Homo sapiens: one gene and its partner. The protein of the gene in region 1 interacts with the protein of each later gene in a biochemical or structural test. Each region holds a gene or a part of one and is shown on either strand. Other genes may lie near its edges.

Region 1 (7,682 bases):
GCAACACAGTGAGACCCTGTCACGACAAAAAATACAAAACTTAGCCAGGCGTGGTGCTGCATGCCTGTAGTCCCAGCTACTTGAGAGGCTAAAGTAGGAGGATCACGTGAGCCTGGCAGGTTGAGGCTGTAGTGAGCCATGATTGTGACACTGCACCCCGGCCTGGGTGACAGAGTGAGACCTTGTCTCTAACCAAATAATAACAAAATGGCCGTGTTCTTTTAGATGTCATCTGACCAACATCCCAACCAATTCAGACAACTGGCACTCTCACCTCCTTTGTCTCATTGACAATACTCTTACCGTTGCAACCTGAGCTGCAAAGATCCGTGGACACAGGGCCCGGGACCATCCCAGCCTCGGAGGCCTATTTATCCACTCACAGGCTGCCCCGTACCCACACAAACAACTTTCAGAACAGGATGCAGGACGCTTGTTCTTTTTTTTGTTTTCTGAGACAGTCTTGCTCTGTTGCCCAGGCTGCAGTGCAATGGCACAATCTCAGCTCACCACAACCTCTGCCTCCTGAGTTTAAGCGATTCTCCTCCCTCAGCCTCCCAAGTAGCTGGGATTACAGGTGCCCGACACCATGCCCAGCTAATTTTTGTATCTTTAGTAGAAACAGGGTTTTGCCACATTGGCCAGGCGGGTCTCGAACTCCTCACCTCAGGTGATCCATCCACCTTGGCCTCCCAAAGTGCTGGGATTACAGGCGTGAACCACTGCGCCCGGCTAAGGACACCTGTTCTTTACACCTATCTTTGGTAGCGTACGGCCAGCACGTTTCAGATGAGCTGCTGCAGAGGTAGCAATCACTCTCCTCTTAGCAGATCTGAGCATGAGAGGTCCAGGTCTCACTGCTCTCCCACACACAAATGCTGGGCAAGGCAAGGGCAGAGCCCTCAGGTGCTCTACCAGCAACCTGCACTCCCAAAATGACCACTTCCTGTCCTGTCCACAAGTCATCAGGAAAGTCTGGCAATGTTTGCCCAAAATAAATATTTCTATGTCCGTGAGGTCGCCCAATACCACCGACCAGTCACCCTCCCAAAATGGCACCAAGACCAGCGTGCCTAGGATTGTTCTCTGTGGAACAAACCCTTTCTTGATTTTTCTTGGCCTGAACTTGTAACAGGAGAGAGCGAGTGAGCATGCGTTTCTATCAGCCACTACAAACTCTTCCTTTTTTTTTTTTTTGAGACAGAGTCTTGCTCCGTCACCCAGACTGGAGTGCAGTGGGGCGATCTCGGCTCACTGCAACCTGTGCCTCCCGGGTTCAAGCGATTCTCCTGCCTCAGCCTCCCAAGTAGCTGGGATTACAGGCATGTGCCACCATGCCCGGCTCATCATCTTTTAGTACAGACGGGGTTTCGCCATGTTGGCCAGAGTGGTCTTGAACTCCTGACCTCGTGATCCACCCACCTCGGCCTCCCAAAGTCCTAGGATTACAGGCATAAGCCCCCGCACCCCCGCTCGGCATAGAAATCCTTTCTGGTGTTGCTAGAAAAGCCTAATCCCTTTGCTCCCCATTTCCACGCTTGATTGGTCCCTCAAGGTTGTATTCGGGGCATTTCCAGTAGCTTCCCCATCACTACGATGAAAGCTAAATTCCCCTAAAACAGTGCAAACTGGCTGGGCGCAGTGGCTCACGCCTGTAATCCCAGCACTTTGGGAGGCTGAGGCATATGGTTCACGAGGTCAGGAGTTCAAGACCAGCCTGGCCAACATGGCGAAACCCCGTCTCTACTAAAAATACAAAAAGCCGGGTGTGGTGGCGCGTGCCTGTAATCCCAGCTACTCAGGAGGCTGAGGCAGGAGAACTGCTTGAACCCAGGAGGCAGAGGCTGCAGTGAGCCAAGATTGTGCCAGCCTGGGCGACAGAGCAAGACTCCATCTCAAAAAAAAAAAAAAAAAAAAAGTGCAAACCAGATCATCGGCAGTCAGCTGTCAACCATGTTCCTAAAAAAAGCAAACTCAGGCTCTGAATAGTCTACGTGCCTCTCTCTAGTAGCTCAACTGGATAAACCTACCTCTTCAAATTTCTTGGTTTTTGCGACTTCACAAATCTGCCCTATCATCCGGATGCGATTGTTGAGGCCACATTCCATGCTCAGTTCCTGGAGAGAGATGAAAGAAGAAAAAGGGGCCAGTGCTCAGGCCACGGTCTCCTTAACTGCAAGTCACAAACCACCTAAAGACTCCCACTGCATTTTCCAGACTAGAGACTTAAAACAGATCTTTCTGGAATCAAGATTCACTTGACGAGCCGCGGTGGCTCAGGCCTGTAATCCCTGCACTTTGGGGGGCCAAGGCAGGTGGATCACCAGAGGTCAGGAGTTTGAGACCAGCCTGCCCAACATGATGAAACCCTGTCTCTACTAAAAATACAAAAAATTTGCTGGGCGTGGTGGTGGGCGTCTATAATCCCAGCTACTCGGGAGAGTGAGGCAGGAGAATCCCTTGAACCCAGGAGGCGGAGATTGCAGTGAGCCGAGATCGCGCCCCTGCGCTCCAGCCTGGGTGACAAGAGCGAAACTCGGTCTCAAAAAAAAAAAAAAAAAAAGATTTACTGAGGGGCTTTACTGCTCCATCCCGAGGAGTTGAGAATGTGCAATTTTTTTTCACAACTGCAAATGTTGTATTGAGATAAAACATAACATGAAATACAATTTCAAACTGCACAATTTTTTTTTAGACGGAGTTTTGCTCTTCTTCCCCAGGATGGAGTGCAGTGGCGCGATCACGGCTCACTGAAACCTCCGCCTCCCGGGTTCAAGCAATTCTCGTCTCAGCCCCCCGAGTAGCTGGAATTACAGGCGCCCACCACTATGACCGGCTAATTTTTGGTATTTTTAGTAGAGACGGGGTTTCGCCATGTTGGCCAGGCTGGTCTCAAACTCCTGACCTCAGGTGATCCACCCGCCTCGGCCTCCCAAAGTGCTGGGATGACAGGCGTGAGCCACCGCACCCAGCCAGGATGGACTATATTTTATTCATCAGTTGATGAACGTTTTAGTTGTTTCTAAGTAGAAAACTTTACAAGTGCAAAAATTCAGCATTTACTCATGGGCAAAACACAATGCCAGGCATGTGTGACAAAGACACAAACACACATAAAAGATAACGACCTAGCCCATGTGCGATGGCTCATGCCTGTAATCCCAGCACTTTGGGAGGCCAAAGCGGGCAGATCACCTGAGGTCAGCAGTTCAAGACCAGCCTGGCCAAGATAGTGAAACTCCATCTCTACTAAAAATACAAAAATTAAATGGGTGTGGTGGCACGTGTCTGTAGTCCCAGCTACTCAGGAGGCTGAGGCAGGAGAACCACTTGAAACTGGGAGGCAGAGGTAGCAGCGAGCAGAGATTGTGCCACTGCACTCCAGCCTAGGCAACAGAGCAAGACTCAGTCTCAAAAAAAAAATAAAATAAAGAACCTACTTCTCCCAGGAACTCACATCTTATCATGTAACACCTGGACATATCCTTACCTGTGAAGATGATGATACTCAGGCCTCATCTATAAGATGGGCTTTCTTTCATCAACATCTGAATAGTAACTCAAGTGTGCCTGAACCAGGTCACCAAGATCCTGACTTTCGAAGTCTCCTGAGGAAGGACATGTCGGCCTCCAAGTACTGGAGACAGCATTCCTGTGTAGACAGTTGCCAGCAACCCGTCTCCCACAGAACCTGGTGCAAGACCAAACCCAGCCTTCTCTGCATTTCCCTCTAGCCTAGCAAAGACACAGGTAGCTCACTCACTCTCAGTATTTCCGCGGTGATGATAAACTCCGTCTGTTTACCCTCTGCAGACCTGGGATTTGGCCTCGGTGTTCCCAGTCCCAACAGAATCTTAAACTTCTCCTTCAAGCCTGAATCTTTGCTTGTTGGTTTGGCCATGGTGGACCAGGACGCACCAGAAAACCCCTCTGTGCAAACGAAACAGGAATGGGGACATCTGAGCAACACCTCTGCCCACCTTCCCCACTGCGGACCTCCAGCCGTCAGGACCCTGGGTCTCTGGTGGGCATAACCTTTCCTCCCACACTCCCTGGGAGAACTCAACTACAGCCCAGCTGACCAGCTCGCAAACAGGCACCTAGGAAAGCCCGGGAGACACCAGGCCTGGTCTAGAGAGCTCTCTACTCAGACGCTGCCGCCCGCCCCGCCCGACTCAGTGCACGGGTTAGGACTGCCGCCGCGAAGTCCTGGGAGCCCCGACGTTTGCCGTCTCTCCTCTACCCATGTGAAGCAGGAGCTGTCACGGAGCCGCCTGCAGCAGAGACCCGTTCGCACCCGCCATGACTTAAAACTAAGGGATGCTCGGAGCTCCGGAGTCGGGTTGCAGTGGGCGCGGGTGAGGGCCCGGGACCCGGACACTGCGGGGTCCGCCTCTCTAGGCCGCTGCCCCGTGGGGACCGCCACTTGCCCCGTGGGGACCGCCACTTACCCCGCGCCGCGCCACCGCGCTCCGGGCCGCCCCGACGCGGAGAAAGGCGCACCCCCCTGGCCCCGGGACGCCGCCGGAAGCGCGACCCGCACTTCCGGTAGCGGCATTGCGCGGAGGGCCGCCTTGGGAGCTTGCTGGGAGTTGTAGTTCTGTGCCGCCCTCTGGCGGAAAGGCCGGCGATCCTTGCATCACGTGACGGGGCCGCATGGGCCGCCGGGATGTGTAGTCCGCAGGAGTCCGGCATGACCGCCTTGAGCGCGAGGATGCTGACCCGGAGCCGGAGCCTGGGACCCGGGGCTGGGCCGCGGGGGTGTAGGGAGGAGCCCGGGCCTCTCCGGAGAAGAGAGGCTGCAGCAGGTAGCGCCGCGCCGTGGCTGGAGCGTGGGAGGAGGCGGGATAGGGGCTGCAGGCTGGAGTCCCGGGCCGCCTCCTGCGGCTCCCAGCTGCGCGGGCAGGGGCTGCAAACCCGGCAGCCGCGAACGGTTCCCACGTGCGGCCCTGCGTTCCCACCTTGCGCCTTTTTCCCAAAGATTGCGGTCCGCAGGGGCTGGGTTTCGGGCGCTCCGCTCCGCTGCCCCCTTTCGCCCCAAGCAAGAAAACGCTTCCTTTCCCACCACTCTGTCCGGGACTCTCCACTCCAGGCTCTGTGGGTCCCATCCCCGCCCTCCTGCAGTGAACTTGCTGTCCTCGGAGAGGCTGGGTGCCAAGGACACACGCAGCCAGAAGCCTGCTCCCCCAGCTCGGGGGAGGGTGCCTCTGAGGGAAAACAGGAAAGGGCATGGCACTTATTATATTTATCCTGCAGCCGTTGAGGACCTGCTGGGGGCCAAGCACTGCAGTGAGCAGTGAGGGACACGGACAGGGCCTCTGCGCTAGTCCCGCTGGGACTTCTGCAGAATTGGCCAGAGCTGGATTCCCATAGGCACCCAGGGACCCCAGGGGTAGTCCAGACTATGTCAGGAGGAACTGGTGCAGCTGGGAGCAGGCAGGTGGTGATGCCAGCCAGGGTGGCAGGAGCTTTGATGCCAGGATAGAGTTTGGAGTTTATTATGACAGTAAACGGAAGTCAATTAGGAGGTTTTGTTGTTTGTTTTGAGATCGGGTCTTGCTCTGTCACCCAGGCTGTAGTGGAGTGTTGTGATCTCAGCTCACTGCAACCTCCGCCCCCCAGGTTCAAGCAGTTCTCCTGCCTCAGCCTCCCAAGTAGCTGAGACTATAGGCCCCTGCCACCACACCCGGCTAACTTTTGTATTTTTAGTAGAGATGGGGTTTTGCCATATTGGCCAGGCTGGTCTTGAACTCCTGACCTCAAGTGATCCACCCACCTCGGCCTCCCAAAGTGCTGGGATTACAGGCTTGATCCACCGCGCCCGGCCGGCCAGGATTTTTTAAAAGGGAGTGACACAACCTGATGTGGGTGTTAGCAGACTGTCTCTGGTGCAGTATAGAAGATGTATTGGGGGCACCTTGGTACAGGCTGTTGCTAGAGTCCTCATGAGCTAACATGGACCTTGTCAGGGTCGCTGGCATAAGGAGGGCCCACATACCCCAGACTGCAGAGGGCAGAGCACCCCAAGTGTATTAGATGATGGACAGTTGTGGCATGAACGAGTGAGGGGTGAGCTAGCAGGCGGGATGGCACCCCTACCCTACCTTCACCTGTGGCCCCACCAGAGGGACTGCGTGGTGCTTTTTGCAGAAGCGAGGAAAAGCCACAGCCCCGTGAAGCGTCCGCGGAAAGCACAGAGACTGCGTGTGGCCTATGAGGGCTCGGACAGTGAGAAAGGTGAGGGGGCTGAGCCCCTCAAGGTGCCAGTCTGGGAGCCCCAGGACTGGCAGCAACAGCTGGTCAACATCCGTGCCATGAGGAACAAAAAGGATGCACCTGTGGACCATCTGGGGACTGAGCACTGCTATGACTCCAGTGCCCCCCCAAAGGTAGGCAGGGGCCCCATCTGCCCAGATGACCCCCCATCTTAGCAAGGTCCTTGTTTTCTTTCTACCCGGTGGCTTTTGGCTGGCACCCTCCCCTGCAGACAGCACCTTGGGAGGATGGACACCCGGTGCCCCAGAGCATCGCCTGCATCACTGTAGCCACTCAGCAGGTCAGGACACCAGTGGTTTAGGGCCTCGTGCTCGAACTTCTGCCCAGTGCAGGCGTGACCTGGGCTTTGTGTGATATCAGGAAGGAAGAGTTCCTTTTGCTTCACGGTCCCAGGGCCTGAAACCCTTAGACCAAGCTGAGTTCTAATCCCTATTCTGCTACCAGGTGGCTTGGATACAGGCCTCTCTGAGCCTCAGTTTGCTTGTCTGTAAAATGGGTAGTATGGGCCAGGCATGGTGGTTCAGGCCTGTAATCCCAGCACTTCGGGAGGCCAAGGCGGGTGGATCACCTGAGGTCAGGAGTTCGAGACCAGCCTGGCCAATGTGGCGAAACCACGTCTCTACTAAAAATACAAAAATTAGCCAGGTGTGGTGGCAGGCACCTGTAACCCCAGCTACTTAGGAGGGCGAGGCAGGAAAATCGCTTGAACCCCGGAGGCGGAGGTTGCAGTGAGCCAAGATGGCACCACCACACTTCAGCCTGGGTGAAAGAGTGATACTGCATCTCAAAAAAAAAAATTTGTTTTAAAGGGTAGTGTGATGATTCACGAAGCAATCATAATAGTAGTGGCCAATGGCTGTTCAGTAGTGATGGGCCAGATACGATCGTGTTGGGTTTTTTTTTGAGACCAAGTCTTGCTCTTGTTGCCCAGGCTGGAGTGCAGTGGTGAAATCTTAGCTCACTGCAACCTTCGCCTCCGAGGTTCAAATTATTCTCCTGCCTCGGCCTCCCGAGTAGCTGGGATTACAGGCATGCACCACCGCACCCAGCTAATGTTTGTATTTTTAGTAGAGACGGGGTTTCACCACGTTGATCAGGCTGGTCTCAAACTCCTGACTTCAGGTGATCCGCCTGCCTTGGCCTCCCGAAGTGCTGGGATGACGGGTGCGAGCCACCACGCCCGGCCACATACGATTCTAAGCACTGAGATAATTCATTTAAGCTTCACATTACTCCAGTGAGTCAGGTACTATTATTGTCCTGGTGTTGTAGATGACCAAACATACCCAAACCAGACCTCCCCACCCCACAGGGGGAGGCTGATGCCTCAAGTGTGGCCCAGGGCAACAAACCAGGGTGTGTCGAGGGCGGGGGGCGGAGCCTGGCCAGGGAATCACCCAGGACCC
Region 2 (7,031 bases), on another chromosome or scaffold:
TTCCTGCTCTTTACTCTGTATTCATCCTAAATGTCCTGAGCCAGGCAGAGCGAAGGCTGCTCCTATCTGGCATCAACGAGCTGGAGGACCAAAGGCAGAAACTGCTCAAATATGAAAATGATTCAGCAGGCAACAAACGAGCAAAAACTGCTGAACAAAGAAAAGTGGAACAGCATAAACAGGTCATTCACTAAATCAGAAACACAAACCGTCTATGAACATAAAAAATTCACTCTCAATAGTTATCAAGAAACCAAATGGAAAAGTCAGATACTATTTCACTTATTCTAAAATAATCATTAGATAAGAACCCGAAGATTAAGGACACTCAAATCAATGTCTGTTAATACCTTTCTAAAAATAGAAATAACAAAAGACACTTGATTAAACTAGCCCTGATAGACGCAAAAAGATACTACCTGTAGCCATTAAAAACGATATAAATCTATATCATCGTTGATAATAGGTCTTGTTCTAATACCAAATGGGTTACAGGTAAAATAAAAAGTATATAGCATCATCCCATTCTTATAAAAAAAATCATACACACACTCAAATGAGTATACATATATATGCAATGTATATGCATATATATGTGTGAAGTCTAAAATTACATAAACAAATTGTAAACTGTAATCATCTTTTTAATACATATTTATAATTTTCTATGATGTATTTACTTTATTTGTATAATAAAGTTATTTGTAGGTTTTCAAGTTATTTACCTACCATGACGTATGTCTACCTCATAACTCATTCCCGGTATATAAATTTCCTCAACAATAAGAAAATCAGAAAAAGATAAATGAAGAAAGTATAAAATACAACACATTGGTGAGTGTGCTATGACTGGAAGACCATGATCACTACAACAGTTTCGCCGTTCATTTCAGTGATTCCAGTCACTGACTCTTCAGGTCAGAGCATCCTAGCATCTTTCAAACACAGGATATGTAACTGGAGAGAACACTCAAGGATCATTAAATCAGCCACCACCAAACAGCATCTCACGACATAGTGACGGTTAAAAGATGCCACCACAATCTTGTGAATACACTAAAAACCAATGAACTGTACACTTTAAATCGGTGAACTCTGTGGTATGTGACTATATTTCAATTTTTTAAAAAGATGCCATCAAGGACAAAGAAAAAACTACTTTCCCAGACATACTCATAACTCCTACCATCTCAGAATCTTCAAAATGATAAATGTACCCCGAGTATAGCACGACTCTGGGTTCTGGATGGAGCAAGACTTCACCACTGAACACGTCACGGGATTCACATGGTGAGAAACAGGACAGGAGTGCTGGATGTAACATTCCTGGCATTATATTTCCAAGTCGCTTCCTGGCTGACCTCTCTCAGGACACCAAACACACAGACAAGTACAATTTGCTTTGCTTCTCCATCACCTCCAAGTATATGGGGGGAGTCCTTGAGGGTATGGCCTATGCCTTACTCATCTCTCCTTTCCCCAGGGCCAGCACAGTGTCTGACACATCATAGCTGCTCTATAAGTATGTCAATGGATGAAAAGGCAACTTCTACATTCCTGTGAAATCCACAGGACTGGCTTTGTACCCTTGAACTAGGATAAGCCCAGCACCACTAAGAACTGACTCTGATTTCATCATCTCTAGAAAATGGAAAACAACCAATACTTTCTGCTGCTTTCTCAGTGAACCATTGTTCACATGTTACAGCATGACAGTTCATGCTGTAAATAATAGTTCTATTTGCTTATTTGGGTATTTACACAATTATCCAAATTAAAGAAATAAAAGACCTTACGAGAATTTTAGGAGAGGTTCCAGGCCATGCCCAGGGAATTCATTGAGAATTTCCATGGCGGTTACACAACCCACAGTTGGTATTCCTTCGGTATAATCACTTCCAAGCAAATAAGCCAAATTTATTAACTTATTCCGGTCCAATCCTAAAGAGTAACAATATTTTTTAATTTTTATCAAGATTTCTTATATGACATTTATAAACATTTTATTATATAAATCATGTACGTGTGTATATCTATATCTATATCCAACCACCAAAAATATCTTATTATTTGAAAATAAATTATTTTATTCAATGGCATTCTGTTAATATTTTTAAAGTTTCATCCATTCTCATAGCTTTAAATACCCTCTATACGCTGACCCCCAAAGTTAGCTATCTAGCCTGAGTCTCTCTGAACCACAGTCACATATATTCAACTATCAACTCAACACCTCCACTGGGTATCCAATGAGCATCCCCAATTTATCATATCCAAACCTGAACACTTCGTTTCTCCTCCTCCACTGTGCTCCCTCCTTGTCTTACTGAAGGCAGGTCCACTCGACCAGCTGCTCAGTATCTGGAATCCTCCTCGACTTCATTCTTCTCCCACCCCACATTCAATCTGCCTGCATACCCTAGCACACCAGACCCTGGTGGGTTTCAGCTTCTTCCTATTCTCTAAGATTAACCCTTGCCATTTCCTCCCTCCTCCTCTCACACTGGCCTCCTTGCTTCCCTAGAACACAGCCCACAAGCTTCTGCCTCAGCCCCTTTCACTCACTAGTCCCGAGGTATCTATCTACAGTGCTTGCTTCCTATTTCCTGCAGGTCCCTGCCTTGAAGTTACACGAGTAAAGCCTTTCCCAACAACTCTCTGAAACAGCACCTGCACTCTCGATGCCTGAAGTTCACTCTCTCCTCTCCTTTACTGTTATATTTTTCTATTTGGCACTTACCACCAACTGTCAAATTATGATTTATGTATCTGCTTATCATCTGTTTCTCCTACTATTTTACTCTCTGTTCCTTCCCTCTTGTTAAGAACAACTGGCATATAGGAGTCACCAAACATATATTTGCTGGATGAACAGAAGAAGATCAGTGCCAGAAACCCGAATACAGGCCCAGGCGCGGCCTGCTTCCCCTCTCCACCACCTTTTGTTCACTGTGGAGATCTCGGGTAACTAGTCAAAGTTTAACTAAGTCAGTTGATTAACTACCTAAACATACTAGGACTTTAATTCCTTAATTCAAATGTTTAAAATCCTATTCCTCTATATAAGCCAAAGATCACTCATATAAAAATTTGCATAGACCTGCAATTTCCATCAATGCATCAAACTAGTTCCTTGGAAAGAAAACTTCCTAGGACAAACTCTGAAGGTAAATGTCAGAAAGTAATCAAAAAGACTCTGAAGTCTTACCCAATTGATTGTGAAAGTCCACATATTGATAATATTCTACAAACTTGTTTTTATTAAAAAAGTTTCTATAGACATGCCGCGCTCCAAACAGCCAGATATCACTGTCATCAGTGATGGTTCCGGAAGTCTGATCAGTCAGGTCCAGGATGGCGCACTGCGCCTCTGCTTCCATGGGAGCCTGGATGTAGGGAATGCCGAACAGGCGCAGGAGTTCCTGCAGAGTGAGGGGTACACAGTGACGCCCAGGGAAGGGCACCGCCAGGCCCTGAGCACAGGGGGAGCAGTGCCTACCACTTCATGTAATGCATTCATTCCTGCAGAGTTAGGGACACACAGTGACCCCCAGGGAACGGCATCACCAGGCCCTGAGCACCAGGGGGCACAGTGCATACCCCCTTCATGCAGTGCATTCCCCCAGGGGTCTGAAGAAGGTGGTAAAGGAAACCCAAGCTGCCTGCACCCACCTGGCTTTCCAGGAACATCTGTCCGGTGACAGTAGCAGCGATCCGTTCTTGCTGCTGTTTTTGAGCTTTCAGTGAATTCTGCTGTGCTAAGAGGTTGCTCTCCAGAGTTTCCAACTCCTCCTATAAAATGTTTTTTCATTTATAGATTTATATTAATAATCCAAATGAGTTTTGTTTACAAAAAGCCTGCATTTAGTCTGACTGAAATTACCAATAAGCTCTTTCTCCTTAGGAAGTACTCCACTGGATGTCTAACCAAGACTCTGTAATATCTTTAGAGATTCATCACTAAACCACATGGAAAACGGAGTCTATCCCAGCCAGTAACCTACACAAAAATGAAGCCATCAGCAACCACAAGATGTACTGCAAATAGCTACTAAATACTCATCCACCAACTCCTTAAAACTCAAAACCTACTTAACCTGGCTTCCTCAGCAAGAAGTCGAAACACAATGTTACGGTATTACCAAATTAATATCTTGCCATTCATGGAGCGAATCTTCCGCATCTTTCTCAGCTTCCTGTGGCTCACCATCCACGTCGTCCCTCTCAGAGTTGTCCCTCAGGAGGCTCTCGGACTCAGCAGGGGCTTCTCCCTCCCTAGTTCCTACCAGTTCCTCTTCGCCTTGTTCTGAGGGAGGTTTGGAAGTTTCAGGGAATTCTGCTTGAAGTTCCTCATCACTAATCACACTTTGCACTTCAATGAAACTTCCTGTACCAAAATTAAAAGGTCACTTCATCTACAATCAAAACATTAAAATGATCCTGCAATCATCAAGAGCTTTCTGGAGGAACCTGAAAAATGCTACATCCTAAAAAGGAAAGATATGACTATAACAGAATACATGTAATAGTAGCGTTATTAATAAATAAATGTAATCACAAATGCCTGTAACTTCAAAACAAGCCTTTTCAATTAGGTAAACTGGCACTGTCTTTGAAAGTAGGAAACTCTCTTAAGATTTGTATATTCGCTTTATATAAATATGTTCTAAGTTAACTGACATTGTTTTAAAAATTCAAAAAGGAGGATTATCAAAGTATATAAACAATCATGGAAGTTGCTCAGTATGTTTTTATGCTATTTACACAGCACAGAATAAAGCTGTGACTAAGAAATAGTTCTTCCTCTTCCACTTCCCTTCTCTCCTCTCTTACTGTCTTACTGTCTTTCCTTCTCCTTAAAATATATTTAATGGTTGCCTTCCTTCCCTGTAGGTGGAGAGGGCTGGCAAGGCCTGTCCAGCTGGGTTTAAGGAGACAATCAGAACAGAGGAGGGGGCTCTCAGGGACTGGGAGCTGGCACCAAGGACACAGCTGAAGCAAAGAAGAGAGCAGGGCCAAGGAGGAGGCCAGTGGGAGGGGGAGATGGTTACATATCCAGGGAGAATAAGCAGATGTAAATGTATTGAGGATAAGGGGAGCAATGTTTCTCATTGTTAGGGAAACTATAAAGAAGCAGGAGGCTAGACTGAACCCCATGGAATTGCAGATGTCAGTATAAACTCATGGATTTTAGTACAGATAGACATAGAAATAAATATAGATGTGTGTGTGCATGTATATGTATACATAAATATACTTCCTGGCACTGTTGCTGAAAAGGCCTGAGACAGTTATACCTCAGGATCCATAAGCACACTCACATCCAGCTTGTGGTGTCTAAACCCCATGCTCCACTGAAAGGAACCAGAGCTCCCTGGTGAAATGGCTGGTTCCAGGACCAGGGCAGAGAAAGTACAACATATGCCTGAAACAGCTTGGCCAGAAAGCAAGGAAAAGCTCAAAATATAATGAAAAAACTGCTGAAAGCCATTAGAAGGAGCCCCAATGGCCAAAGCTGTGATAATTTGAGTAACAAAGTAAATTATGACAGTATTGGATTATAACTCACTAAATAGGAATACAGGAGTCTACACTGATTAAAAATAATAAAAATAAATGGGGAGAAGGAAAAGATCTTCCTCATAGGAGGATGTCAAGTAATAATATATAAGGAATGATGGAGTTAGAAAAACCATCATTTGGCAACCAACGTAGTAACAAATTATTCAGGTAAACATCAATGGATGCTAACAAGTGGGTGGAAGTTTGTTCAGGAACAGCATATTTATATAGCTCCAAAAATTCCTTTTCCACAAAATACTTATTAATTACAAAAGGGAAATAGTAACATTTGAATGAAGAAAACTAGCAGATACCAGGAACAAATTGTGTGTGTGTGTGTGTGTGTGTGTGTGTGTGTGTGTGTGGTTGATTCTCTTATTCAAAGTGGCCATCACGTATGAAGTCTCTGTGAACACTAAATTAGCCAATACCGAGTCATTGCTCCTAAACATATCTATGTGCATATACACACATATGCATATATAACATATATATGAACACATTTCATATATATTATCTTAAATCCTAAAAAACCACCATCTTAATAGATTCCATTTATTTTATAAACAAGAAACAAAGTTCAAGAAACAAATTAGTGACCTGTGTGAAGCTGCCACGCTAACAGGTGCCAGAATAGGGATTCAAATCTGGTCCAACTGGCCTGGGGCCGGAGCTTCTTGCTCTCTCTCCATTGCATAATCCCCTACTGTCCCCACCCTCTGGTCATCTCTCTCAGAACACGGGAACCAGGCAGAGTGTCACCTTGCTTAACCTCAGCAGGGGACAGTGTGGCAACTCAAGCTTTTCCCCAACTCTGCAAATGTCCACAAATGACCACAAAGACATTGCGGTGAGTACTGATTTTGGAGTTATAAATAAATTTTAGTGATCAGGCAATTTTGCAAATATGGAATCTACAAATAATGAGGATCAATGGTATACATATGTATACAGATTTGGAGATATATGATATACATATAGAGGGCCACAGAGAGACCAAGAGAAATTCTAAGCTAATGTGGTAACATGCTAGCCACTGAGGTACTGGATGAAGGAACCAGTGTTTTATAATATTCTTCCAACTTTTTAAAGTTCATAATTATTTCAAAATAAAAAGTTTTTAAAAACTAGAGGGAAACTCAACTTTACCTTCCCCAAATAGGGCACTTCATGCCTTTAAAAATGATAACAAAAAGCAGAGCAACACAGGGAAGGTCAAGATTCCATGACCAGCTGTGACTCCCTGGGAAAGTCATTTCATCTTTCTTTCTACGTCTCTCGTTCCTTATCTGTAAAAAGTTAAAACGGGACTACACTAACCGATCTCTGAATTCCTACAGAGGGGAAATCCTACCGTTCCAGATTTCTACAAAAGCACAGACACGTACCATCAGATTCACTTTCTTCCGAGTCAATTTCCATTGGTTCCACGGCCTTTGGAATGGAAATTAAATCCTGGCCTGCAGATT

The links. Proteins that work in one complex are often made in the same cells at the same time.
Region 2: the proteins of NTHL1 (region 1) and ERCC5 form a complex in vitro, tested with the Homo sapiens proteins (2 studies listed by BioGRID).

The regions. Positions count from the first base shown.
Region 1 is NC_000016.10:2,044,835-2,052,516, reverse strand, and holds the start of NTHL1 (endonuclease III-like protein 1), read left to right. Parts: upstream 1-4,682; 5' UTR 4,683-4,693; coding exon 4,694-4,808; intron 4,809-6,125; exon of another isoform or gene 6,126-6,150; coding exon 6,151-6,389; intron 6,390-7,682. Other genes in the region: TSC2 (tuberin), read right to left, coding at 2,031-2,117, 3,764-3,901. UniProt on the Homo sapiens protein: Bifunctional DNA N-glycosylase with associated apurinic/apyrimidinic (AP) lyase function that catalyzes the first step in base excision repair (BER), the primary repair pathway for the repair of oxidative DNA damage.
Region 2 is NC_000013.11:102,863,023-102,870,053, reverse strand, and holds part of ERCC5 (DNA excision repair protein ERCC-5), read right to left. Parts: coding exon 6,951-7,031; intron 4,388-6,950; coding exon 4,143-4,387; intron 3,793-4,142; coding exon 3,673-3,792; intron 3,423-3,672; coding exon 3,209-3,422; intron 1,942-3,208; coding exon 1,797-1,941; intron 1-1,796. Other genes in the region: BIVM-ERCC5 protein, read right to left, coding at 1,797-1,941, 3,209-3,422, 3,673-3,792, 4,143-4,387, 6,951-7,031. UniProt on the Homo sapiens protein: Single-stranded structure-specific DNA endonuclease involved in DNA excision repair. Makes the 3'incision in DNA nucleotide excision repair (NER).